Linked DNA regions of Homo sapiens. The protein of the gene in region 2 interacts with the protein of the main gene of each other region in a pairwise test. Each region holds a gene or a part of one and is shown on either strand. Other genes may lie near its edges. The genes, in order: PPIG, LGALS3 and CRX.

Region 1 (3,654 bases), on a different chromosome or scaffold from region 2:
TCAGTAAGCACATTAAAAAGACAGGATTTACACCATAATGTTAGCAATCATCATGTGTGGGCCATGGGTTTAAGGGTAATTTTTAATGTATTTGTTTTCCAATTTTTCTTCAATTTCGTAATCAGGAAACAATTATTTTTAAAAAAGTACTAATAAAATGCGTTTTTTTTTTTTTGCCTATCAACAGCAAAGATCTTTTAAAAGAATAACTCTCAACACATGTACAAATGGAAACAGGAATTTATACTACTACTAGTGATCATATACAACTCCTTTGAAATTTAAGAATATGAGAAATTCATAAGTGTTTATACTTTGAACCAGTAAAATTCAACTGTTGGAAATCTATTATGAGGAACTACTCTAAATTCAGAAAGCCTTCAGGTATAAAGTTGGCTACGCTGGTGCTCTTTTTAGCAACATATAATCAAAAGCAACCTATCATAATATCACAAAAAAGTGAAATTGTCTCTGGTTCAACAATAATTAAAGCAATGCTTATGAAGATTAATAATTTGGAAAAATAATCAAGATATAAAACAGTGGGCCGGGCGTGGTGGCTCACACCTGTAATCGCAGCACTTTGGGAGCCCGAGGCAGGCAGATCACAAGGTCAGGAGATCGAGATCATCCTGGCTAACATGGTGAAACCCCGTCTCTACTAAAAATACAAAAAAAAAAAAAAATTAGCCGGGCATGGTGGCGGGCGCCTGTAGTCCCACCTGGAGGCTGAGGCAGGAGAATGGCGTGAACCTGGGAGGTGAAGCTTGCAGTGAGCCGAGATCACGCCACTGCACTCCAACCTGGGTGACAGAATGAGACTCCGTCTCAAAAAAAAAAAAAAAAAAAGATATAAAGCAGCATATGCAACATAATGATGATTGTGTAAACTACTCCCGACCTTCAAGCTCAGGCAAAGACTTACAAGAAGACAAAAAAAGAGTGAAAGGAAATAAATCATTATTGTGTGTGTCTGTAAGACTGGAGAGGGCTTTTGCCTCACTACTTCTTTCTAGTTTTCTTTAATAAATGTACTGCTACTTTGGGAGGCCAAGGCGGGTAGATCACCTGAGGTCAGGAGTTCATGACCAGCCTGACCAATGTGGTGAAACCCCATCTCTACTAAAAATACAAAAAAATAGCCGGGCATGGTGGTGGGTGTCTGTAATTCCAGTTACTTGGGAGGCTGAGGCAGGAGAATCACTTGAGCCCAGGAGGCAGAGGTTGCAGTGAGCTGAGATTGTGCCATTGCACTCCACCCTGGACGACAAGAGCAAGACTCTGTCTCAAAATAAATAAATAAATAAATAAAATAAATAATAAATGTACTGCTATTATAAAGAAAAAATTCCTAAGATATATATATATATATACACACACAGTCTTCTAACATTATAATGTACATGTGTGGAAATGGCTATAAGATGTATTCAGAGTCTATCACTCAAGGATACACTCTTCATAGAAATTGATTAGTTTTCCTGAAATGACAAATCACATATGCCTCAAATGCAAGAAAGATGAAAGGCAGCAAATTACTATTAAAATTACTACACAAATCCCTTGAATATGTAAATGTTTTAATATTAGCAGCTAATGAAAAACAATGGTGACAACAAAAGATGGCTCACATGCTGTGTCGCTAACATTACTGAAATGCTACTAATTACTAATCATTATAAAAAGTTACTAATTACTAATCAGAAACAGTATATCCTATTTCCTCTATAATTATGATTTCCTCGATTATTAAATAATACCTGAAATCACGGTGGTTCACACCCGTAATCCCAGCACTTTGAGGGGCGAAGGGAGGAGGATCACTTGAGCCCAGGAGTTCAAGACCAGCCTGGTCAACATAATGAGAACGCATCTCTATTAGAAAAAAGAAATCTGAGCCAGGCACGGTGGCTCACGCCTATAATCCCAGCACTCTGGGAGGCCGAGGCGTGCGGATCACAAGGCCAGGAGATTGAGACCATCCTGGCTAACATGGTGAAACCCCGTCTCCCCTAAAAATACAAAAAATTAGTTGGGCGTGGTGGTGGGCGCCTGTAGTCCCAGCTACTCTGGAGGCTGAGGCAGGAGAATGGCGTGAACCCGGGAGGCGGAGCTTGCAGTGAGCAGAGTTCGCGCCACTGCACTCCAGCCTGGGTGACAGAGCGAGACTCCATCTCAAAAAAAAAAAAAAAAAAAGAAAAAAGACATCTGAAACCAGATGCAGTAAGACAAACATCTGGTCAATTTTTCATTTTTTTTCAAGTAAAAGTAAAGAGAAAAAATAATGCTAGGAGATACCAAAAACATGATTCAGGGGAAAATTAAGCCCTTACAATTTTAAATAAAATATCCATGACCAGCCTGGGCAACAGCAAGACCCCATCTCTATTAAAAAAAAAATGACAATTAGCTGGGTGTGATGACCCAGGCCTGTGGTCCCAGCTACTTGGGAGGCTGCGGTGGGAGGATCATTTGAGCCCAGGAAGTTGAGGTTGCAGCGAGCAGTCATCATGCCACTACACTCCAGCCTGGCCAACAGAGTGAGACTCTGTTCAAAAAAAAAAAAAAAAAAAAAAAAATCATGAATTGCCTAAAAATACTAGAATATAATCAAAATTTTCAGTGTAGTAGTAATCTGTGGGTGATTTGTTTGCTGCAAATTTGTTTAGTATGAACTACAGCTAAAATCCAGACAAATTTTTCTTGGAAAAAAAAAAATCACAATATGTGGCACTGTGCCCCATTTCTACACAGCAATCAGCATAGTCTGCTCCCAACAGATGACATATATATGTTCTAGTTTGACCTAATTCTAGCTATTGCTTATTAGCTGTTAAAATTTATTGTCTACTTGACCTCATGTACTTACCTCACCTGCTTGACTCCTTCAGAAATTTAAGTATAATATACTGAATCTACTTTTTTCATCATAATGAAAACACATTTTTAATAAGATAAGCAATAAAGCTAATAAGCTCACTGAAAAAAATTAATCATACAAAATGCACAAAATTCTAAAACTTAGCTATAGCTTTTAATACTTTTATTATATTCTTGTTTTTCCTATGCAGGTGATTAAAGTTATTTTTAATATTTATCAACAATATAGTCACTTTTGTATTTCAATAATAAGGTAATACAATTTAAAAATATCACAGTGCTATCATTTATAAACTTCTGCAACAAACACATTTCATAAAAAAATCAGTAAGAGGTAACCAGTTCATGTGTAAAAAAATTTATCCTTGTAGTTTCATACATAAACTATTTTCCATATTAATCCTAAAATAACATGACTAAATGAAAAACAGGACAAAAATATAGGCAACTAATTATTAAAATATATAGTAGCGGACATGGCATTTATAAGTAGGCATATGGTAACTTTATTATATTTTAAAGTTATTTGGAAGTTTCACACATTATGAGGAAGTCAGCATAGCACCGAGTTTCTAATCTAGAAAAAATACAAAGTAAATTATTTCTATTTTTAGAGACAGGGTCTCGCTATGCCGCTCAGGCTGGAGCACAGTGGTAAGATCACAGCTCACCGCAGCCTGGAACGCAGTGGCTCAAGCAATCCTCCTACCTCAGCCTCCCGAGTAGCTGGGACTAAAGGCGTGAGCCACCACCTCCAGCTAATTTTTAAAAATT
Region 2 (3,490 bases):
ATTTCCTAGGTACTGTATTATGAAATTATTTGCTTTTTAGAAAATTACATGTTCTTTACACAGTGCAAATGTACAGCTTTAATCATTTTAATAACTGGTCTTTGGTTTAAAACAGAATTGCTTTAGATTTCCAAAGAGGGAATGATGTTGCCTTCCACTTTAACCCACGCTTCAATGAGAACAACAGGAGAGTCATTGTTTGCAATACAAAGCTGGATAATAACTGGGGAAGGGAAGAAAGACAGTCGGTTTTCCCATTTGAAAGTGGGAAACCATTCAAAGTAAGTTATTGCTACTATTATATATTGATAATGTATATTTCTCATGAGGAATCACTCTAAAACCCCAAAGCACTTGAAGTGAGAGTTTTTATCACCTCTCCTAAGGTGCCTAACCAGTTTATCTTCTCCCTGCCCAGGGGACCAGGCTCAGCAGGCTGAGAACATGGCCAGGAGTGGCACACTCCCCAGTTCCTTTCAGGCACCTCTCCATCATCACTGCTGCCACCCCTCTGAGTTTAAGCCTTTCTAGAAATGAAAAGAATATAATCTTTAACAAAAAAGGCAAAAAGTCTTTATGGTACAGTTATACTGCGACTTTGTTGCTTAAAACACAGTTGGCAGAGAGATGAAAACTAAAGGTTTTTTATTCTAAAATTAAAGTTTTATGAAAAGTTTATAAATTTTTAAATTAACAAAGTTTCCTATCTTTTACTCCTTCCCCCATCCTCACAAAGTTGCAATTCGATGAGTATCTTCCCAGTATTTTCTGACATACAGCACGCTTTTTATTTGTAAGCACTGCTTCAACAAATTAGATCCACAGCATTTAGGGTTGACTATAGAGTGGTGAATAAAACAGCTGGAGTGTAAACTCTTCAACAACAGGGACAAATAAGGACCACAGTCTACATTTGGTGGATATCTTTTCGTATCAGAATATTGTTACTTAATAGCACTTTTTTTTTTTTTCGAGACAGAGTCTCGCTCTGTCGCCAGGCTGGAGTACAGTGGCACGATCTTGGCTCACTACAACCTCCGCCTCCTGGGTTCAAGCGATGCTCCTGCCTCAGCCTCCCAAGTAGCTGGGATTATAGGCGTGCGCTACCATGCCCAGCTAACTTTTGTATTTTCTGTAGAGACGGGGTTTCACCATGTTGGCCAGGATGGTCTTGATCTCTTGACCTCGTGATCCGCCCACCTCAGCTTCCCAAAGTGCTGGGAGGATTACAGGCATGAGCCACCATGCCTGGCCAGTAGTATTTCATTTTTAGATATGTGATAATTTAACCAGTACCCTACTGATGAAAATTTACAGAATAGAAACACTCCAACCTGGAAAGATTTTACTAAAATACTGTAATAACTATCCTTACAAATCTTTGCTTCCTAGAAGCAAGTCTTCTAGAAATCTTTGCTTCCTAGAAGCAAGTCTTCTAGAAATCTTTGCTTCCTAGAAGCAAGTCTTCTAGAAATCTTTGCTTTAAATATACATGTTTACAATTTAGATATTGTCAAATTGCTGCTTCCAAAAAGATATAGGAATGAACATCCACTATTGGGAAGAGTAGATTTCTCCTACCCTTGCCAAAACTGATTATCATCAATCCTTACAACATTTGCCAGAGGAATCCTATTTTCGTGTTTTTCTTTTAGGTGTTTTAGACCATATCAGAACTTTTGGTTGTTTTGAGACAGGGTCTCACACTGTCACTCAGGCTGGAGTACAGTGGCATGGTCACAGCTCATTGCAGCCTGTCAACCTCCCAGGCTCAAACGATCCTCCCACTTGAGCCTCCTTAGTAGCGGAGACCACAGATGTATGCCACCCACGTGTGGCTAATTTTTGTATTTTTCTTGTAGAGATGGGATTTCACCATGTTGCCTGGGCTGGTCTCAAACTCCTGGGCTCAAGATCCGCCCGCCTTTGCCTCCCAAAGTGTTGGGATTACAGGCGTGAGCCACCACACCCAGGCTCTTTTAAGTTTTTATGCAGGCAAATCTTTAGCCTCCACCTTTATGGCTTCACTTATGTATCCTTCTAATAAATTTGCTGCTTTAAAAAAAAAACCTGAATAACTTGGAATTTTTTTGTTGTTGCTTTTTGTTTTTTTGAGACGGAGTCTCACTCTTTCGCCCAGGCTGGAGTGCAGTGGCACTATCTCGGCTAACTTCAAGCTCCGCCTCCTGGGTTCATGCCATTCTCCTGCCTCAGCCTCCCAAGTAGCTGGGACTACAAGGTGCCCGCCACCACAATCAGCTAATTTTTTGTATTTTCAGTAGAGATGGGGTTTCACTGTGTTAGCCAGGATGGTCTCGATCTCCTGACCTTGTGATCCACCCGCCTCAGCCTCCCAAAGTGCTGGGATTACAGGCGTGAGCCACCCCGCCCAGCATAACTTGGCATTTTTGCTGTAAAGTTACTTTCTCTGGATCTTAACTGGTCCCACAAATGATAAGGATGAAATGTTGGACATCCTGGGCTCAGGCCAGACTGGTTTGAAATTAATGGACATTTTTTCCCTTTATTTCAGTTGACAAAAAATTGTTTCTATAGTGCAGATGAAATATGTATATATTGTGGAATGCCTAAATCCAGCTGACATATGCATTACCTCATGTAACAGTTTATGTATATGCCATTTCAGATACAAGTACTGGTTGAACCTGACCACTTCAAGGTTGCAGTGAATGATGCTCACTTGTTGCAGTACAATCATCGGGTTAAAAAACTCAATGAAATCAGCAAACTGGGAATTTCTGGTGACATAGACCTCACCAGTGCTTCATATACCATGATATAATCTGAAAGGGGCAGATTAAAAAAAAAAAAAGAATCTAAACCTTACATGTGTAAAGGTTTCATGTTCACTGTGAGTGAAAATTTTTACATTCATCAATATCCCTCTTGTAAGTCATCTACTTAATAAATATTACAGTGAATTACCTGTCTCAATATGTCATTTAATTGGAGTGGTTTATTCTAGATAATGCACAATGGAAAAAATATGTAGCAATATTAATACTGCATTGGGGCCTCAAGGTTTCCTATACTTGTTAAAATATTTTTCTTAAGGAGAAAGTAAATATTACCACAAAATTATCTCTTCCAGAATTTCATAAAAATCAGCTGTTTCAAGAAAATTATTCTCTCATTTTCTTAAGGAAATATAACATGTTCAGGAAATCAGAATAGCATTAAGAAAAAGTTAACCTATAGATGACCTATGACCCATAGACAATTATTGTTAGGATTCTGGTATATTTCTTGACGGCTTTTTAATCCTATTTTCTCCTTCTATAGTTCACTGCTTTCAAATCAGTAATTTGATACCAATATAGGACCATCTCCCTGGTTTTTATGAAATCTCTTATGGAGAAAAAGGTATCTTATATAGTCGGCTTTCAAAATTTAATTGTTCCCATCGTCAACATTCTTGCCCATGCCTTTCTACCCTTATTAGCAGCAAGCCCAAAGATTAATAAAATTC
Region 3 (3,654 bases), on a different chromosome or scaffold from region 2:
ATTGCACTCCAGCCTGGGCAGGAGCGAAACTCCGTCTAAACTGTGTCTCGAAAGAAAAAAAAAGAAAAAGAAATAAGGCTTTGCAGGCCAGGTGCAGTGGCTCATGCCTGTAATCCCAGCACTTTGGGAGGCTGAGTCAGGCGGATTATTTGGACCCAAGAGTTTGAGACCAGCCTGGGCAACATAGGGAGACCCAATCTCTACAAAAAAAAAAATAATAATAATTTTTTCTATGTTTTGTATAATCCAGATCCTGCAAAATCTACAAAAACTTAAAAAAGTTAGCCAGGCATGGTGGCGTGCACCTGTAATCCTAGCTATTTGGGAGGCCAAGGCAAAAGGATCGCTTGAGCCCAGGAGTTCGAGGCTGTAGTGAGCTGTGATTGCACCATTGCACTTCAGAGTGGGCAACAGAGTGAGACCCTGTCTCAAAAATAAAATTAAAAAAAAAAAGTGCCCCCCGGGCCTAGGCACAATGGCTCACACCTGCAGTCCCAGCTACTCAGGAGGCTGAGGTGGGAGGATTGCTTGAGCCCAGGAGTTCGAGGCTGCAGTGAGCCGTGACCACCACCACTGCACTCCAGCCTGGGTGACAGAGTGTGAGACCTTGTCTCTGAAAAATAAATAAATAATAAAGTTTTGGTAACAGATGAAAATTCCTCTTGATTCCCCTTCCAGATTACATCCCCTCTTCCTCACCCCAAAAGGAACCTCTGTCCTGAATTTCTAGGACTGCTAATGTTTTTCTAAGTGACATACATTTCAGATGAACCCAGAGGGCTGGTGTATGGCCCTGAAGTCGCCCCTGTGATTGCCTTCTTCCTGGGGGCAAAGGGACCCCAGAGGTCCTCCAAGAGATGAGGCCAGCCTGGGGTGCCAAGAGAAACGACTGTACTCACTTGGGTAGGGCACAGCCTGGTGCATCAGATCCACACTGGGGCCACTTAGGGCCAAGGCGTTGACAGAATAGTGGGGCCCCGGGTTCATATACGCCATCATGATCTTCGGGGACACTGAGGCCCAAGTCAGGGGGCCTGCAAGAGAAGAGGAGGGATGCTCACTCACTTACCAGTTACTCACCATGGGGTGACGTGCAGGCTGCGATTCAAATCCTGCCTCCTTCTCCTCTTAGGTATGTGACCTTGGCCATTTATCTCACCTCTCTGTACCTCTGTGTCCTCACATGTAAAATGGCCTCTGCTTAAGGTTCTCAGAGCTTTCTTGAGACTCTGCAAAGCAGACAGCTGAAGCCATCATGTGCCTCATAAGTGCAAGCTCTTATTCCTACTCTACCCTCTAAAAATCTCGTCCTGGCTAGGCACAATGGCTCACATCTGTCATCCCAGCACTTTGGGAGGCCAAGGCGGGAGGATCACTTGAGCCCAGGAGTTTGAGACCAGCCTGAGCAACATAGCAAGACCCTGTCTCTTAAAAAAAAAAAAAAAGTGTTCTTTAAAAAGTTAACTGGGTGTGGTGATGCATGCCTGTAATCCCAGCTACCCAGGAGGCTGAGGTGGGAGGATCACTTGAGCCCAGGAGTTTGGGGCTGCAGTGAGCTGTGTTCAGGCCATTGCACTCCAGCCTGGGTGACACAGCAAGACTCTAAGAAAAAAACAAAACAAATCTGATCCTGTTACACACCCTCATCCAAGATCCCTTCTTTCTTGACCATGGGCAAACACGCTCAGCCTCACTTATAACCCAGGACTGCAGGTTGACCAACCGTCCCTCTTTGCCCAGGTTGGAGGAGAGGTGGGTGTTTCTTGGAACACAGGACTTTCAGTGCTAGAGCCAGAATGGTCCCAGGCAAACTGGATTGGTTGGTCACCCTAAGGGAGAGTGGCATTAAACCAACAGTAAGGGCCAGGCAAGGTGGCTCACGCCTGTAATCCCAGCACTTTGGGAGGCTGAGATGGATGGATCACCTAAGGTCAGAAGTTCAAGACCAGCCTGGCCAACATGGTGAAACCCCATCTCTATTAAAAATACAAAAATTAGCCAGGTGTGGTGGCGGGTGCCTGTAATCCCAGCTACTTGGGAGGCTGAGGCAGGAGAATCACTGGAACCCGGGAGGCAGAGGTTGCAGTGAGCCAAGATCGCACCACCGCACTCCAGCCTGGGCGACAGAGCGAGACTCTGTCTCAAAAACAAAACAAAACAAAACAAAAAAACAAAAACAAAAACAAACAAAAAAACGACAGTAAGGGCTAAGCAAGGCGGCTCACACCTGTAATCCCAGCACTTTGGGAGGTCAAGGCAGGAGAATCACTTGAGCCCAGAAGTTCAAAACCAGCCTAGGCAACATAGTGAGACCCCCATCTCTGAAAAAAAGAAAAAGAAATAGTGAGACCCCCCATCTCTGAAAAAAGAAAAAGAAATAGACCCCTATCTCAAAAAAAAAAAAAAAAAAAAAGCGAGTGTGGATCTTCCATGATCACTTTTGACCTATCAGGTTGGCAAAGATGAAGGAGGTTGATAACTTCCAGCACTGGTGTCAGTGTGGGGAAAGGCACACTCCCATGGCAGATAGGTAGCAGTACAGGTTGTAACAAACTGTTATTGAAGTAAAATGCCATCTTTCTTTTGTCCTAGTAATTCACCTTCAATGTATACCTCAGTCGCCTTGTTGGAAAATGGGAATGAAAATCGCATTTATGGGCCAGGCGCAGTGGCTCACACCTGTAATCCCAGCACTTTGGGAGACCAAGGCAGGCAGATCACTTGAGGTCAGGAGTTTGAGATTAGCCTGGTCAACATGGTGAAACCCCGTCTCTACTAAAAATACAAAAATTAGCTGGGCACAGGGGTGCACGCCTGTAGTCCCAGCTACTTGGGAGGCTGAGGCAGGAGAATCGCTTGAACCTGGGAGGCGGAGGCTGTAGTGAGCCAAAATGGTGCCACCACACCCCAGCCTGGGCTACGGACTCCGTCTCAAAAAAAAGAAAAGAAAAGAAAAAGAAAATAGCATTTATGTTCAGGTGGCAACATAGCGAAACTCTCCTGTCTCTACAAAAAATTAATTTTTTTTTTAAAGTAAGCCTGGGCGCAGTGGCTCATGCCTGTAATTTCAGCACTTTGGGAGGCCAAGGCAGGCAGATCACCAGAGGTCAGAAGTTCGAGACCAGCCTGGCCAACATGGTGAAACCCCGTCTCTGCAGAAAATACAAAAATTAGCCGGGCATGGTGGCGCGTGCCTGTAATCCCAGCTACTCGGGAGGCTGAGGCAGGAGAATCGCTTGAACCCGGGAGGCAGAAGTTGCAATGAGCCAAGATCAAGCCACTGCACTCCAGCTTGGGCGACAGAGCGAGACTCCGTCTCAAAAAAAAAAAAAAAAAACATAAGGCTGCTCTCTGAACTGATTTTAAAAGATCTCCATTATATAGTTTTAAAAAATTGTTCTAGGGGCCAGGTGTGGTGGCTCACATCTGCAATCCCAGCACTTTGGGAGGCCAAAGCAGGCGGATCACCTGAGGTCGGGAGTTCGAGACCAGCCTGGCCAACATGGTGAAACGTCTCAACTAAAATACAAAAATTATCCGGGCGTGGTGGCAGGCGCCTGTAATCCCAGCTACTCTGGAGGCTGAGGCAGGAGAATCGCTTGAGCCCGGGAGGCAGAGGTTGCAGTGAGCCCAGATCGTGCCACTGCACTCCAG

The links.
Region 1: the proteins of LGALS3 (region 2) and PPIG interact in binary tests that used the Homo sapiens proteins (3 or more experiments, as listed by UniProt).
Region 3: the proteins of LGALS3 (region 2) and CRX interact in binary tests that used the Homo sapiens proteins (3 or more experiments, as listed by UniProt).

Annotation. Positions count from the first base shown.
Region 1 is NC_000002.12:169,590,846-169,594,499, reverse strand, and holds part of PPIG (peptidyl-prolyl cis-trans isomerase G), read right to left. Parts: intron 1-3,654. UniProt on the Homo sapiens protein: PPIase that catalyzes the cis-trans isomerization of proline imidic peptide bonds in oligopeptides and may therefore assist protein folding. May be implicated in the folding, transport, and assembly of proteins.
Region 2 is NC_000014.9:55,142,469-55,145,958, forward strand, and holds the end of LGALS3 (galectin-3), read left to right. Parts: intron 1-115; coding exon 116-281; intron 282-2,647; coding exon 2,648-2,803; 3' UTR 2,804-2,955; downstream 2,956-3,490. UniProt on the Homo sapiens protein: Galactose-specific lectin which binds IgE. May mediate with the alpha-3, beta-1 integrin the stimulation by CSPG4 of endothelial cells migration.
Region 3 is NC_000019.10:47,831,789-47,835,442, reverse strand, and holds part of CRX (cone-rod homeobox protein), read right to left. Parts: intron 1,035-3,654; 5' UTR 1,000-1,034; coding exon 900-999; intron 1-899. UniProt on the Homo sapiens protein: Transcription factor that binds and transactivates the sequence 5'-TAATC[CA]-3' which is found upstream of several photoreceptor-specific genes, including the opsin genes.